2 separate regions of the Homo sapiens genome follow, and region 2 is linked to region 1. A link means that fine-mapping ties the variant in region 1 to the expression of a gene that starts in the linked region. Tissue or cell type: skeletal muscle. Region 1 holds a variant in brackets; the other region holds the start of a gene. All regions are shown on one strand. Distances are between the middles of the regions.

Evidence for each region. PIP is the estimated chance that this variant, and not a neighbour inherited with it, causes the effect.
Region 2: it holds the start of PRIM2, and the variant in region 1 is fine-mapped to the expression of PRIM2 in skeletal muscle (GTEx, PIP 0.95).

Annotation. Positions count from the first base shown.
Region 1 is chr6:57,642,839-57,650,948 of GRCh38, forward strand. It overlaps PRIM2 (DNA primase subunit 2), which reads left to right. Exons shown (of 14, transcript NM_000947.5): 14 at 3,090-4,012. The coding sequence ends at 3,320. Among named protein-coding and RNA genes, the nearest start is that of TRI-AAT1-1, 150 kb to the right of the region's middle. The variant A/G (reference allele first, on the strand shown) is at 3,500.
Region 2 is chr6:57,313,068-57,321,169 of GRCh38, forward strand. It overlaps PRIM2 (DNA primase subunit 2), which reads left to right and starts at 4,563. Exons shown (of 14, transcript NM_000947.5): 1 at 4,563-4,634; 2 at 5,370-5,532; 3 at 7,390-7,493. The coding sequence starts at 5,379. RefSeq lists a silencer at 3,648-3,697.

The DNA of each region.
Region 1 (8,110 bases):
TCTTTCTTTTATAAACTATACCCATAATACAGCATCAGCAATTTCCAGTTTGGATTCCTTAAAGTAGAAAAGGAACTTGATATATGCAAAGCAATAGGATCTTTCTCCCTCTCCTTCTGTGACTTTCACCTTTTTTTTAAGTGACTTGCTTTTCTTGACTCTTTAAAAACATTTTATTTAGATTTCATAGAACAATTTTTTTTAACATTCATTTTTATTTACTTTTCCCATGGCAACCCTATGACCTAACACTGTTATCTCCATTTCATAGATGGAGAAAATCAGACTTTAAAAAGATTACCCTATTTTGTGCACATTGAAGTCTAATAAATGTATTGCTAACTGACAACTTGAAGCGAGGTATAGAAAATGCCAAGATATTATTATAGCATAAGATACTAGGTTATTTTTGCATGAAATAGTACAACTATGTTTTTCTAATCTTTGTAGCCAAGTTTATCTCTAGAAATAAAATTTATAATGGAGATATCATTATCAGTATGATTTTGCATACAATCTCTTAAAACAGATTTCAGAGCAACTAATGATCTAGTCAGAAGGCCTGAATTTTAATTCAGACAAAACCAGTTACTAATTCTATGACCTTGAATAAACCATCTATTCTCCTTAGGCCTCTGTACATGGAGGAGATTGAATTTAATGGATTCCCCAAGGTCTTTCTAATCTCTGATTCTCTGTTTACAAACTATTTTACAAACTGTAAAGCCTTCTGATTAAAATGTATTAGACAATAAACATACTTTTTGTGAAACACATTGCAAAATGCAAAATTTATATTGGATTTCCCAGTTTTTAATGAATTGGGTGAAAATTGAATGTAATAAAAAAGTTCACAAATGATTCCATTGTTAATAAAAATTATAAAACATTTCAGAAACATTTTGAAATCAAGCAGCTAAGTTAAAAAAATGAAGCAAAGATAAAAATTTGTTCTTAATGATCTATAACTCTTAAAATCAGTCTGTATACTATCCATCTGTTACACACTGGAATTACTATAAAATTAGCCTAACATGTATTAACAACTAGCAAAAGAGAATCAGAGATTCCTAGGGTGCTTAGATAAGTATTACCAGAAAAGACTCATGTTTCTGTCTGCTGGTCCGTCCACCAGTAGGGTTCATTCTAGACCATGGCAGCAACCCCTTTTTCCCTGGCCAATTCATTTTAATCTACTAAAAGATTATACATAGCTTTAATCACACCACGTCTCTTTTTAAGGGTTTTTGGTGACTCTGTGTTGCCTAGAGAATTAGGTCTTGACCACTTACCCTGATTTTCAAGGCTCTCTCAGGCTGGCCCCTGCCTGTCTTTCCAACCTCATTCCTTATTGTTTCCTTGTATGTGCCTTTCATAGTAGGCTATGTGAACTATTTAATATTTGCTTTCCCAGGACATTCCCTCTTTACCTTGCTCATGTGGTCCTGCTGCAAATATTGCCTTTCCCCTCATCATCCCAGCTTTTCACCCTCTCCATCTTTCCAGACGCAACTCAAATAGCACTCCTCTTACAAAGCCTTCCTTGATCTCCTCAGCCGAAATTTCTCTCTACTGTGGAGTGTAATAGGCCTTTATCTGTGACCCTCATCAGTTCTCCATTCTTGGTAGAGGTTTTTAAGTATATGACTTACTGGGTTGGAAATTTGAGTTAGTCAAATGTATTCCTGTATGCTGAATAGTGAATAGTTTATAACACAGTCTTTTATATAGTAAGGCTTTAATTAAATATGCAAAATTATCACTGGTATACACTATTTCTGGGTTCACTTCACCAAATATTTATTAGATACCTACAGTGTGCAAGTCACTTCAGTACGAAGAGTGAGACGTAAAAGGATTAGTTAATACAAGACAGATGAACAAAAGAAATGGAATAACTTCTCAGTTTCCAAAAACTTGATAAATGAAAATACCACCCAAGAAACCAACAGTCACTCACTCAAGCAAAATGATATTTTTGTTGTCAACTCCAACTGCAGAAGGCGAGAAGGCAGGGATTTGAGACTGTGGAAAGTGAAACTGAATATAAGGAGAGATTACTAGAGTGCATAATTTGAAATGATACTCAAAATTAAAGTTTAATGATAGTATTTGAGAAAAAATAACATAAGTTATGAACCAGGCATGTTTGTATTCAGTCACAGTGAAATTTACAAGAAGAGATTTTCTGTAAAAAGACCAAGGAAAGGCCAAGATTAGAATGAAGAATTACATTGACTTAGGTTGCTTTTTCAGTTTATATCATACTAAATGAGTGCATATGCCAGACTTACAAGTCAGCTCTAAAACACAAGTGGTATCAGGGACCAGTATCAAAATGATCAAAAATGATTTTACGATCACTTAAAAACCCACAAATATTTACTGGCCTACAATGTGGTAGGCCTTTTGCTTGGAACTGGGGATACAATAATGAATCACACAGGTCCCTAACCTGTGCCTCACTAACATACAATGTCATTCACACACACACACACACACACACACACACACACACACACACACACACACATTTGTATTCCAAACATATTTTTATAGTTTTCTAATTTTTTGTTTTGACGTAATTGTCAACCAGAATTGGTAATGTTTTGGGTATTGCCAGAATTGAGGGCTTGGTGTAGATGGGAGGTGGCAGGTGGGAGTTGGGGGCTGGGGAGGTGAGAGAAAGGTGTCTAGTATGCCCCAAGGATGAATGGTGATACCAATCACTGAGAGCAAAGGATGGGGAGAGGGGAAAGGATACGTTTCCTGTTGGGTTTGAGCTGCCTTTGAGCCATCTTAGATGTTGAGTAGGTGTTGGATATGGGACTGAAACTAGATAGGGAACTGGAGCCAAACACAGAGGCTCAGACTAGAAATATAAATGTGGGAGCCATTTAGGTTTGGGTAGTGGTTGAAGCTCTCTTTGAATGAAATGGTGTAAGTAGCTGATTAAGTGTTAGAATGCAAACAGCTAGAATCCATGTTTCAGGTATTAAGTTTTAAACAAGTACTAAAACAGCTTTTGAAACTCATATATTTATAGCTTTGCCATGCATTAATGCAATATAAATTTCCTTCCTTTACAGGTGGATGATTGTGGCTTTTCTTTGAATCATCCTAATCAGTTCTTTTGTGAGAGCCAACGTATTCTAAATGGTGGTAAAGACATAAAGAAGGAACCTATCCAACCAGAAACTCCTCAACCCAAACCAAGTGTCCAGAAAACCAAGGATGCATCATCTGCTCTGGCCTCTTTAAATTCCTCTCTGGAAATGGATATGGAAGGACTAGAAGATTACTTTAGTGAAGATTCTTAGGCAGTTTTATAACCCTTTTTCCTCAATAGCCTGTTTCCTGTTTTTAAGATTTTGCCTTTGTTGTTGAAAAAGGGTTTCACTCTGTCACCAAGGCTTAGTGCAGTGACACAATTACAGCTGATTGCAGCCTTGACCTTCCCAGCTCAAGTGATCCTCCTACCTCAGCCTCCCAAGTAGTT[A/G]GGACCACAGGTGTGCACCTCATATCCAGATAATTTTTTTCAATTTTTTTTTGTAGAGGTGGGGGGTCTCCCTATGTTGCCCAGGCAGATCTCAGACTCCTGGGCTCAAGCGATCCTCACACCTCAGCGTCCCAGAGTGCTGGGATTACGGTTGTGAGCCACTGTGCCTGGCCTTTTTTTTTTTTTTAACCTTTTTGTTTAACTTCTCTCTTCACTGCATCCCAATCCATCTACAGGCATGCACACTTATTAGGAAAGGAGGTTTGAGGTAACAACAGAGACTTTCACTATATTTTGCTTTGACAGAAGGAAAGAGGAGGAGTTTCTATTAAAATCTGTCACTTGAGTGATGTCATTTAAGTCCTATTTTAGGAGATAAAAACAGCTTTGGGGACTGGTTAAAGTCCCCCAGAAACTACAATAAAGAACAACTTTTGTTTTAACTCTTAATCACTTTGTAATTTTGACTCAATCCTTTTCTGGACCATTTTTGTTAATAAATATCAAAGTGTACATGACAGTGTCTGCGTATAATTGGGAGAGTCTTATGTCGTAACAGATTGGACATTACTTCAGTTTTAAAATGGTAATTTGGAGTATCCAACACACTGCTGATCACTAATGAAGATTTTAAACTTTTCTTTACCTTTTTTTAAGAGTTGACCTATTTGTGGTTATTCTACATCAGGCACCTTTGAGTGGCACCAGACCCTCCTGAGTGAACTGTGACTTGGGAATTAACATAAAGTATAGCCAGTTATATTTATTAAGGAATAATAGGGATATTTTATTATGTAAAATAATGGCACGTCTTATCTGCTGCCATTACTCTGGGGACAGGTTCATGAAGAATAGACAATTACCAAGCAAGAAGGTTGTACATATAAAATAAAGTGTTTATTTTACCCTCCAACTTCCATACCTTATTACTTCTGTAGTTGCTGTGAATTACCAAATAGATTTGGTAAATTAAATTAATTTACTTGAGCAATGAATAGTGATACTTATAGTAACCCCCTCCTTTCAGTGCCAGCAATAGAATTTAATAAATGTTGTGGATGATTACAAACATACGAGATCAATGCCCTGTTCTCTCTGCCTGCTTTTGTCAAGGGAGTAAGGTGAAGTTGATGATCCCTGGCACGTATGCCTTGTGGAGCAGTGCCATTGTGGATACCCTCATCTAAATAGTGATTTCCTCCTGGGGCTCTACTCACTCACCAATAGGATTTGGGGTGCTCAGGAAACCCTGTTTGAAACATAGTTCTTCCTCATCTATTACCTTGGAATATGTGAAAAGTATTCGTCTATTTCTGTCTTCTTTTCCTGGTAAAGAGGGATACTTTTATCCTTTTGAATCAGATAGTAACTAAATTGAAAAGAGCACATTGTATTCAGAAAACTAGACTGTTAGCAGCACCATATTTTTAATCATGTGATAAACTGCATCATGATGAAAAGGATTAAACAGGATCAGATCATCAGAAACTAAAAATGTCAACTAATTGAGTTTTCATTTTAGGCTTCTGAGTCAAAGATTTCTTGGAATATTTAGCAACATATAATTAAATGAGATACTATCTATCTAAACTTTTACTTGTCTTGGTGAATTATTATTACCTAGTTCAGAAAATAGTATTATTCCACTACAAATTACCCCTATAAATCTCTGCCTTCTGAAACCATCTGCTACTCCCTTCATCATTTGTCGTTCTCAACAGGAATCTGATGATTGCCTACCACTTTATCCATGGACTGCAAAACCACAAGTCCTTCTTTAAAAAAAAAAAAAAAGAACAAGTGCTACCTGGAGCTGTTTTAACCACAGAATTAAGTTAGCTTTAGAAAGCCGAGCATAGAAATGTAGGTCTTCGCTGTGTTAAAAGAAGGGAGATATTAGAAGCACTCTCGCCACTGTAGTTCAATGAGAAATTTTCTGATAGAATGTTTTGTATCTGGCAGCATTTTGCAAGGCTGTCTTTTTCTACTGCTTCATGTTCTCCTTCTTTTATGAAGCCTGTGCTCCCACCAGCTAAAAGGACAGAGTCCTTAACGGCATGGTAGATGCAGCTTACTGGACTGTTTATTTTATACTGGCAGCCCCAGGAATTTGTGTCATCTCACTTGAATGTTTTATATGTGTCTAGTTGAACTCCAAAATAACACTAGTTTAAATATTAGTTGTATTACAGGTTCAATTCAATTTATTCATAATAAGGTTTGATCTCCTGTATTATACAGAAGAATATATAAACATTCTGTGAAATCTATAGATTAGAGGATAGGGGATAGAGGTTTATAAAAGATCAAAATTAATGCTTTTCTGGTGCTTTTTGGAGTTGGAAAAAGCAATTTATTTTTCATGCTTCACAGGTCTTGACAATTTTGATTTGTTTTCTTTGAGAGCAGACCTGTTTGAATTGGGCGATGTAAAGAACCCAAAAGAAAAAATCAAAAGCCAACAGCCTCTTTTCAAAACCGTAGCCAGTGAAAAAGAAAAGAATATGAGTCTTCCAGATCTTTTAACTGTTAGTCTTTTATTATCTCTTCAAGGAAGAGAGGCTGTATGATTGTATCAAAGACAAAAGAAGAAACAGCAAAAGAAAGAAACTAGGTTGGAAATTTGTAGCTGGTTGAAGCAATGACATTGTTAGGAGAAATTCTGTCACATTTCTTTCAAGTTGTTTTTCCATAATGTTTTTCACTCTGTCCATACAGTACAAAACTTAATTGCCATGTGCATGAAAGAACACTAGGAAGGTTTTAAGTAAACTTTTTAGGACTGCTTATAATATTATAGAGTCATAAAAGTAAATAGTTATAGATTTCGAATGAGCTGGGAATGGAATAAAGCAATGGGAAAGATCTTTAATTCACATAGAATTTTAATAAGCTAAGGGATTTCTTCTGTCTCTAAAAGCATGCAGGGTGTTTTGCTTGTTACACTTTGCTGTCTTATTGATACTCAGGGTCTTTGCAAGCAAACTTTGTAATTCTTTACAAAGAAGAGAAGAAAACTTCTGGGATTTAAGCTTGAAGGGTGAAATGAGACAACTCTAAAGTTCTGTTTCAGTTAGAGTCTACTCTGCAAATTTAATCAAGGTCTTCCGCAGGCATCAGCTTGACATTAAATTTAAGTGCCCCTTAAAGTGAGAGTTTGACAGCAGTTCTGAATGTGAAGCTCAGTCTGAGGACATCTTTACAGCTGGAAGGGGAAAAAAAAAAACGTTGAGAAGCCTCAAACCACTGTGGTAATTAGATCCATTTGTTAACTTCTTTTTTAATGTTGGCAAAGGGAGGGAGAGAAAAGGTTGACAGAGGCTGGAATCAGGAAGGCAGTCCAGAGCTCCCTGTAGAAATCGGGTAAGCAGAGTCCTGTATTGCAGAGAATACTGGCAGATATTCCCTCTGACAAATGAGTGAGATGGGGAATTTATTTTATGAACTTCATTCAGTTTGTCTTCCTTTCAATACACAGAGCCATGGTGTGTGGAAGCTGCGTTTTGGATAGGTGTGCTGGTTTGGTTGTAAGGCCCTTTGGAAGACACAGAGCGTTATTTGGGAGTGGACCTCTGGTGGTACGTTGTTGGCCTGAAGAGTTAATGTTTCTCACAAGGGTATCTAACTTATATTCAGGTAATCACTTATTTACCCAAAGCATCTGGTCTTTTCAGTATTGAATTCCTTTTTCACAGGTCGCGATTGCCCTAGTCTAAGGCTTCTCACCATAATTGGCATTGTAGGCAATTAGCTTCATGGAAATCATGTCACCAGTAGGAAATTATCTTCCTACTTCACTGACCTGCCTGCCAAAAATGATACTAGTTCTTGTTATTGGTTTGCTTTCTATCCTGTAAGCTCTTTTTGTTCATTGCTTCATGACATTTTACTTTTTCCAGAATTATCACTGTAGAACCTTATCAAAGGCTAAAGAATATGTCTTTGTATAAAGCTCCTGCATTTCCCTTGAGCTTTCCATTGCAGTACTGTTCTTGAACATTGATGACAAGGTAGTGAAACAACACTGCTAATAAATATATAATGGGTTTTTCAATCTAACCTTGCATTTCTAGGTATTCATTCACCACACTGAAACTATGAGGCTTTTTAAGGTTTTGTTTAGTTTTGCACTGAAAGCACAGGGAAAAGTAAATTCAACAAATACTGCATTTAATTAATACTGACCATCTTGCGAACATTTCCCCGATTACTCCCACACATTTTTTTAGAGATCTTACCTTCTATTTGAGTCATGGGATACCAAGGTTTTCATTACTGATTAAAAATGACATAGTGATACATACTTCTCTTTTCCCTTTCATTGGCAAGAATTAAACTGTGATTTAAACAATGCTCTATCACCCTTAACTCTTGGTTGTCCATAGAGTTCCTGCCTGGTTCTCTTCTTACTTCATGAGTCTCCTGGAGTGAACTCATTCACCCCTATGGTATTTTTTTCTATCCATATGCAAATAATCCCCAAATGTGTATCTCCAGCTGAGAATTCTCTGAGCACAGATCCATCTATACAGCTATCTCTTGGATCTCTTTTTAGGATATCCCACAAGTATCTCAAATTTAATTTGTTCAAAAATCAAACCTGTTCTCTCA
Region 2 (8,102 bases), 330 kb before region 1:
TGTAATGTCTTAAATACTAATGAATTAAGATTAGCCTTCCATCTGCCTGAAATGCTATTCTCCTAAAGATAGACATGACTAAATCCCAAGTTTTCTTCTGGTCTCTGTTTCATGGCCACATTCTTAGCCAGCCTTTCCTGGCTATCTTTTCTAAAATTTCATTATCTCCTTGAAAAACTTTACATTCTTCTTTTCTGATTAATTTCTTTCTGTTTAGTAGTTGTTATCTAACATAATTATTTATGTCTTTAACTTGTTTATTGTCTCTCTTCCCCATTAGAAGATTTATAAGAGCAGGATTTTTTGGCTCTCTCATCATTCTCATATCCCCAGCATAGAAAATGTTGCCTGGCACTTAGTAAGTGTTTAATTACTATTTCTGGAACACACCAAATAATGCTGATATATGGAAGGGTAGTGTTTCTTCACCGTGCTACCATTAAGAATGTGCTTTCTGTCAGTTCTCCTGCTCCTTGATTTTGACTAATAAAGCAATCTAAAGCAAATGGAGAGAGAATGAAGTGCTTTCTTTAGGTTGTTTCCCAGCCAACTCCGAGAGGTAGGCAGTGAAATGGGGAGGGTGGAGGGCCAGAGGTTGGCTAACTCTGCATTAGCTTTTATGGGTCAGCTATCTTGCTGGAAATACCTCATGTTCTCTGCTTTTCATGGCAAACACAGCTGGTAGGACCTAGAATTTACAGCATGCTTACTCAGTAAAGAAGCTTACCACGCCTTTGGTTTTCAGGGCGACACACCCCGCTCAGAAGAGGAATGAACACTCACTTAGATTTACCAAGCATGGCAACTAAATTCTCAGCTGTAAGTGTGACACTTTTTGGGATAGAAGTTCTGGAGCTGTGGAGGAGTTATCTCAGGGTGAATGCCACGTGGGGCAGTCTGTCTGTAGCTGGGTAATGCCCAAGGCAGGCACTGAATTGAGCAGTGATGATTCATGGAAATTCTGCCAGAGAAGGTACTCTGTGCTTTATTACAGGCTAAACTAGGAAGCCAACTCATTCTGGAAGGAATGTGTATAATGTTTTCAGATGAGGACTTGAAGTTTTATAGGTTGGAGTCACATTTGATTCAAACCATCTGTTTAATGGGAAGCTGAACCCAGCATTTTTTTTCATATGTCTCTCACAGTATTCAACAATTCAGTATGGGCTGGGCGCAGTGGCTCACGCCTATAATCCCAGCACTTAGGGAGGCCGAGGCAGGTGGATCACCTGAGGTCAGGAGTCTGAGACCAGCCTGGCCAACGTGGTGAAACCCCGTCTCTACTAAAAAAGCAAAAAAATAGCTGGGCATGGTGGCAGGCGCCTGTAATCCCAGCTACTCGGGAGGCTGAGGTAGGAGAATTGCCTGAACCCAGGAGTTGGAGGTTGCAATGAGCCGAGATCATGCTACTGCACTCCAGCCTGGGCAACAGAGCGAGACTTCGTCTCAAAAAACAAAACAAAACCAAAGAAAAAACAAAAACAATTCAGTTTCATAAGTATTTATTGAGGGCCCATGGAGTGCCAGGCACTGGGGTCACAGAAATGAATGAAACAGTCATCCCTGTTTTTGAGATGCTATGGTTCAGTGGAAGTAAAACTTACATGTTTATGTATGTTTTCCTTCCCATGATTGTGAGGTCAATGTCTGTATTTACAAGAATCTTGGTTGCCAGGGCTGAGCATTGTGTCAATCAATTTTTTGTAGATGAAGTGAATACATGAAAGAGCTCACAGTGATTTACTGAACATGGCTGCTGAAATGTATAACATTATTGTGCATTATTGCTACCGTGATATGCGGATTTATATTGCAATTGCCTCTGGATTCAGAAAAACACCCTTCACAGTGAGGTAGTGACCAAAACTGTGGCATTAGGAAACAATAAAAATGCTGGAATAGCTGACCAACACAGGGTATTTTGTTCCCCGGGGCTTAAAATCAGTTTTTAATATGATGAAAAGGCAGCTATTATGTGACATAGTAAGATATTGGTATGTTAAGCATGAACATATATTTCCAGTTTTCTCTGAGCTGGTCATGAAATGACACTGGCTACTTCGTCTTTTAATTGGGCAGATATTGTAGGAAGTACTTTGGGGATCACAGAGATGAACAAAAGGGCTCATCCAAAGAAAGCTTAAAACCTAGTAGTGCTGGAATTCTTAACTAGCCACATATGGTGATCTTGAACCTCTTGAAATAGTATAGATGTGTGTGTAGGTGCATTTTTCTGAAGAGAGCTTTCATCACATTGTCCAGTGGTTCATAGACCTAATTAACATCCCTCTACTACAGAAGTTCTTAATCTTGATCTTCCAAAAGATAAAGAACTTCTGTAGTAGAGGGCTATAATTATTTAAAGAACTACACCATATGGGAGTCATGAAGAGCCTCAGGGGTTTAAATGAGGAGCAAAACAGGTGGCAACACTGAGTAGTTTCATTATAAAATCCTTGACAATTTTGCAGGAGAAAATTTCTTTGCCTCTAGTGATAAAAACATTTTTCATATTTAACAGTAGTTATTTTTTCTATGAGTTACCTCTTCTTCTTCTTGTCCTATTTTTCTGTTTGTGTCTTAGGATTTTTTTCCTAATGAGTTAACTTCTTTGTATCCTGATGGCATTAACCTTTTCGATGTTATACTTTTGGTAGACCTTTCTCTAGTTTGATGAGTGCAAAATACTTCTGTGAATTTTTTACATGCATAATTTTATACTTTTTATGGTCAAGTCTTTATATCTTTTTTCTTTGTAATTTATAATATTTAAATTTGTTTGCTATCCAGAGATAAGATATTCATGTAAATATTCTTATGGTCTGTGATGCAGGTTTTTTCAGGCAGTTTATATGCTTTCAGGTGTCTTCTTTGGACCACGTGATGTATTTGTATTACGTATTTGTATTATGTATTTAATACAGAGAGGAAGAAATGAGGTGAAGCTCTGCTGTCATATTACTGGAATTGGTGTAGTGAGATCGTTAGCACAGTGGGGCCTGGAGAGTTTCTCTGGGTTTGAACATGGCTCTGACATTTTGTGTCCTTTTGACTTCATTTAACTTCTCTGTTCTTCAGTTTCCGTATCTAGAAAATACGTTTAATATAATAACCTTTGGGAGGCCGAGGTGGGCGGATCACGAGGTCAGGAGTTCGAGACCAGCTTGCCAACATGGTGAAACCCCATCTTTACTAAAAATACAAAAATTAGCCAGGCGCCTGTAATCCCAGCTATTTGGGAGGCTGAGGCAGGAGAATCGCTTGAATCCCGGAGGCGGAGGTTGCAGTGAGCCAAGATCGCTCCACTGCACTCCAGCCTGGGCGACAGAACAAGACTCTGTCTCGGGTATTGGTGGTGGGTCGGGGGGAATAACCTATCTTATGTGGTTATGATAATAAAATGAGTTGATATGTAAACCACTTAGAACAGGTCCTGATATAAAGTCAGTGCCAGCCACAGTTTAGTCCAGGCTGGGTAGATGCTTTGAAGCTTGATATTGTTTCAATGTACTTTGCATTTCTAAAAACGTGAACATTTCAAAGCATTCATTTGATCTCCTAAGGACTACCTATACCGGAGCCTCATTCCAGCACATTTGTAAGCGAGGCACGCCTCCTAGAGGCCACGAGTGAAGTTAATTTCCAGTTCTCGAAAATCTTACAGACAGCGGAGAACTGGTGTGGTGGCTCTGACGCCCCGCTTGTGAGTCTGCAGTCGGACATCTGGAAAGTAAGCGGCACGTCCGCGTGATTTCCAGTGCTTCATCTTCTTCCACCCTACCTTCCCTCCGAGGCTGGGTTCTTCTAATTCCTGTAGATTGCAGAGCGATTCCTGCGAATGTGCCTTCTTTCATTCATTCTAGTTCATTCCACAGATAATTCAGCTGCGCGCTTCCTCTGTGCGAGGCATTGCCGGAGAGCGGGGAGCGAATTGAACGTGGAACCTGCCAGTAGGGGCTTGCCGCCCAATACGAAATTCAAAATATGTATTGTATGTAGACGGGCAAACTAACGAGGATCTTGTAACTTGTTTTCTCATCTGCCAAATGGGGGTAATACGATCTTATAGGACCTTATAGGTCGCTGAAAGATTAAACGAGCGGAAAAAAAAGAGCCCCTAATAGTGAGCTAGGTGCAAAAAAGATCCTAATGCCTTTTTTCCTCATTCCTCCCCAGATTGAAAGTGATGAGTGCCAGCCCTGAGGGTTAAAGCGCCATATTTTCCTCAATATAGGGAATATTTGTTAGTGTCCCCAGACGAAGTTACATTGGTTCAATTTTCGGCGTGTGGGAGTTTTCGCCACTAGCATTCAGCACCCCAGTTTCAACCGTTAAAGCTACCGACTCCACATACAGGAAATGCATCTTAAAATTTGGAAAAAAAATCCCCAAAACACTGACATCCAAACACTTTAAAGCTGCCAAGGTGGACGGAACACCTTGAATTCCCAGACGCGCTCCACTGAGCATGCCCAGAGCCTCAGGCCAAACCCCCTCCTACCCGCCAAGGGGAGGTGGGGCAGGGCTGGCCTTCTGTGCTAGTCACTTCCTCTTCCGGTTTCATATGAACTCTCCCGCCACCCGGGAACAGTGGCTGCCACCGTTTGTGTTTTCCCGAGTTTGAATTCTTGCAGGTAGGGGAAACTTCCGCGAATTTAGGACAGAGAGCAATCCTGTTATTAAGGCTTGCAAGTCGAGAGAAAGGAGAGATGGATCACTTTGCAGGCAGCAGTAGCAGAAGGACAGACTTGGCGGGTTGGTTGTTTGGGGCAGACACCCAGGTACCAGGGAGGAGTTGGGGAGAGATAGGTTTGCCAGTGGAGTGAGGAGGGGTGTTGGGGATGGAACTTTTGTAAGGCACTTGTGGATGCTCCCGAAAAGGAGTTCCGAAAGACAGTTGCTCTGTTTCCCAGAGTCATAACAGAGGAAGTGAGTAACTGGACCCAGTCCATCAAGTAAGACCCTCATTTAGCCAGAACCTACAGCACTTTCCTCTAAGTTCAGGATTGCAGACCACGTAAAACCTTATGTTAACTCTTGGGATCGTAAAGATCCAAGAACAGTGACACACAGGCCTATAATGAGCAGGCAACATCACCTGACTTTCATGTTGCTGAAAATTAGGATCACCACCTGCATCTGCTCTAGCGCCTCTCCCACCCCCATTACAAAATTATTATAGGTGTATTGTAGAAAATCTGGAAACGAGAGAAGGACATCACCCAGGAATTGCCACTGCTAACATTTTGTGCATGCCCTCAAATCCATTTTTTTTCTGTGTTTGTGGAATTATTTTTTCGTGTTTTTTCTTTTTTTTCCCCCAACTTTGTTTTCCATCATTTTACGCTTTTTGTGTACTTCCTTCTAAGGTGACCAAGATGGAGTTTTCTGGAAGAAAGTGGAGGAAGCTGAGGTTGGCAGGTGACCAGAGGAATGCTTCCTACCCTCATTGCCTTCAGTTTTACTTGCAGCCACCTTCTGAAAACATATCTTTAATAGAATTTGAAAACTTGGCTATTGATAGAGTTAAATGTAAGTACTATTTAAATTAGAATGTATATATTCTTGAGAAGCTCACTTACCCTTTGTGAGAATGAATGAAGGTAATTCATTTCCTTCATTCAGCAATCCATTCAACAAGTATTTATTGAGGTAATTCATATCCTTCATTCAGCAATCCATTCAACAAATATTTGTTGAGGGTTTGGTACTCATTCATTTATTTATTGTACAATGCATATTATTGAGTGCCATTATGTTCTAGGTGGCAGGGATTTTGAGATGAATAATGTTATTTTTTGTTGAAGTTTTATTCTAGTACATGGAGACAGACATCCAAAATAATAGTCATAATTCAGTATTTTAACTGCTCTAGTAGAAGTAAATGGTAGTGCTGTTGAAACAAAGAAGTGGGAGTGACTGACTTAGTCTTATTAAATGAGCTTCTTAGAGAAGTTGAAATGTGATCTGGACATACTGAAGAATGAGTAGAAATTTTCCAGCAGAGAAGAAGTGAAGAGTTTTTCCAAGCTGAGATAATGGCCTATGCAAAGGCTTGGAGCATGAAAGAGAATTTCATATTTGAGCTAACAGTAACAAGTTCAGGAATTCAGGGTGGATGGAGAAGTATGGAGGGCATTTTGTGCCATGCTAATGATATGATATTGGGGTGTAAGAAGGATGTGGCCACCGTCCTGGGGGCCTACTTAATCCTCAGTGTGTTGCTAGAGAAAAGAATGGGCTAGACATGAATTGAAACAGAAACACTAGCGTTGTCTTCAGAGTTTATGTTCCAGGATATCCCTGTGGGGAAATCAGAAGGAAAGGTGAGATACTGTTAATCATTCTTAGAGGAGCAGGGTAAGCACTGCTAATACAGAGAGGAGGCACTCAGTGCCTGTGTGTTGAATGAAAGAATGAAGACAAGGGAGAAAAGGGTTTTAGAAAGCTTAGCAGTGTCAATACTTCATAGGGATTAAGATGGTGATTGAAAAGTGTCCCTTGGGTTTGGCACTTGAGGTGAAATGATAAGGGCCTGAACTATGATAATGACAATGGCAGTGGTAGGAAGGGAGAGAGTTAAGGGATACTGAGGAGTTAGCATTGATAGGATTTGGTGACTGGATATGAGGAGTGAGGGAGCAGGTGTGGAGTGGCTGCAGTTCCTGCTTGGATGATCTGATGCATGGAAACTCTGCTGCTGGAGATGGGCATGGCAGGACGAAGAGTAGGAATGAGGGGAGGATAATTAATTTGGATACCCATACCTGTGGGACATGGGGTTTATGTTCAGGAGACAATTAGAAGTTCTTCATTCTTGACTTCAAAAATGCCTCCAGAGAATAATTCATCTGAGGAAAGATTGATATGGTGCTTTAGGAACCTTTGAACAGTATGTAGCATCTGTTCAGGATGGTTCATTTGGCTGTTTGGATGGCCTTTCTTCTTCACTGTTGTGCTCTGTCCTCGGCTTCATCAGGAAAGGAAGGGATGCTTTTTTTCTGTTGAATCTATGCCAAGTAAATGATGCCTACTGCCTAACAGGCAGCTCCCATACGAAGGATGCAAACAAGGAGTGCCTAGTTTTTTTTTCCATACTGACATACTTTTCTGTTCCTCAGGAATGATTATTCACCATCCATCCCTCTTCCCTGATTGAGAATCCCTGGTATTAAATTATGCTGTGGGACATGGATATTTTCTGCACATAGATGGACATTATCCTCTTATAAGCATATGTAGTTTATATGATGTCGTTACAGGAAATAAACTGGCAATTACCTGTCATGTTCTGTAAACAAGTAATTATGGAATTGCCCTCCATAGATTTTGTCTTGGATTTAGTTTTAAAACATTATCTTGCATTTATACCTTTTTTCTTTTTTTTAGTGTTAAAATCAGTTGAAAATCTTGGAGTGAGCTATGTGAAAGGAACTGAACAATACCAGAGTAAGTTGGAGAGTGAGCTTCGGAAGCTCAAGTTTTCCTACAGAGTAAGTAAAAAAGGAAAAAAAAGTTCCTTCAGTTTCTATGCATTTATGTATTGAGTGTCACTTGTGGGAAAGATATTATATTAGGCACTGGGCTTTTATAAAGACTAATGTATCATTAGCCTGAAGGTTCTTCAGTGTATTAGGGGTGATTGACATGAAGTCAGATGATTATAATATGGCAGGGTTTCTCAACCTCAGGACTAACATCATTTTGGGTCTGATAATTCCTTGTTGCAGGGATTGTTCTGTGCACTGTAGGATGCTCAGTAGCATCTCTGGCTTCTACCCCTACATATTTCCAGACATGCCAAATGTATCCCGTGCAATACAGGATGATGACTGTGTTTATAGATGCATGCTCCAGGAACTCCAAAAACATACATAATTATGCAGCTCAGATTGGGGAGGTTTGGGAAGGCTTTCCAGAAGAGGTAGTAGTGGAGCTGCATGTTGACAGATGTGATTAGATTTTCATTTTGGGAAGATGACTGCCAGCAGCAGATTGACAGGGTCATGTCTGTTAGGAGGGAAACCAGTTAGAAGCCCGGAAATGATGAGAGTCTGAATTAAATGAGAGAAGGGGACCGGTTGAAGAGACATTAAGAAGGT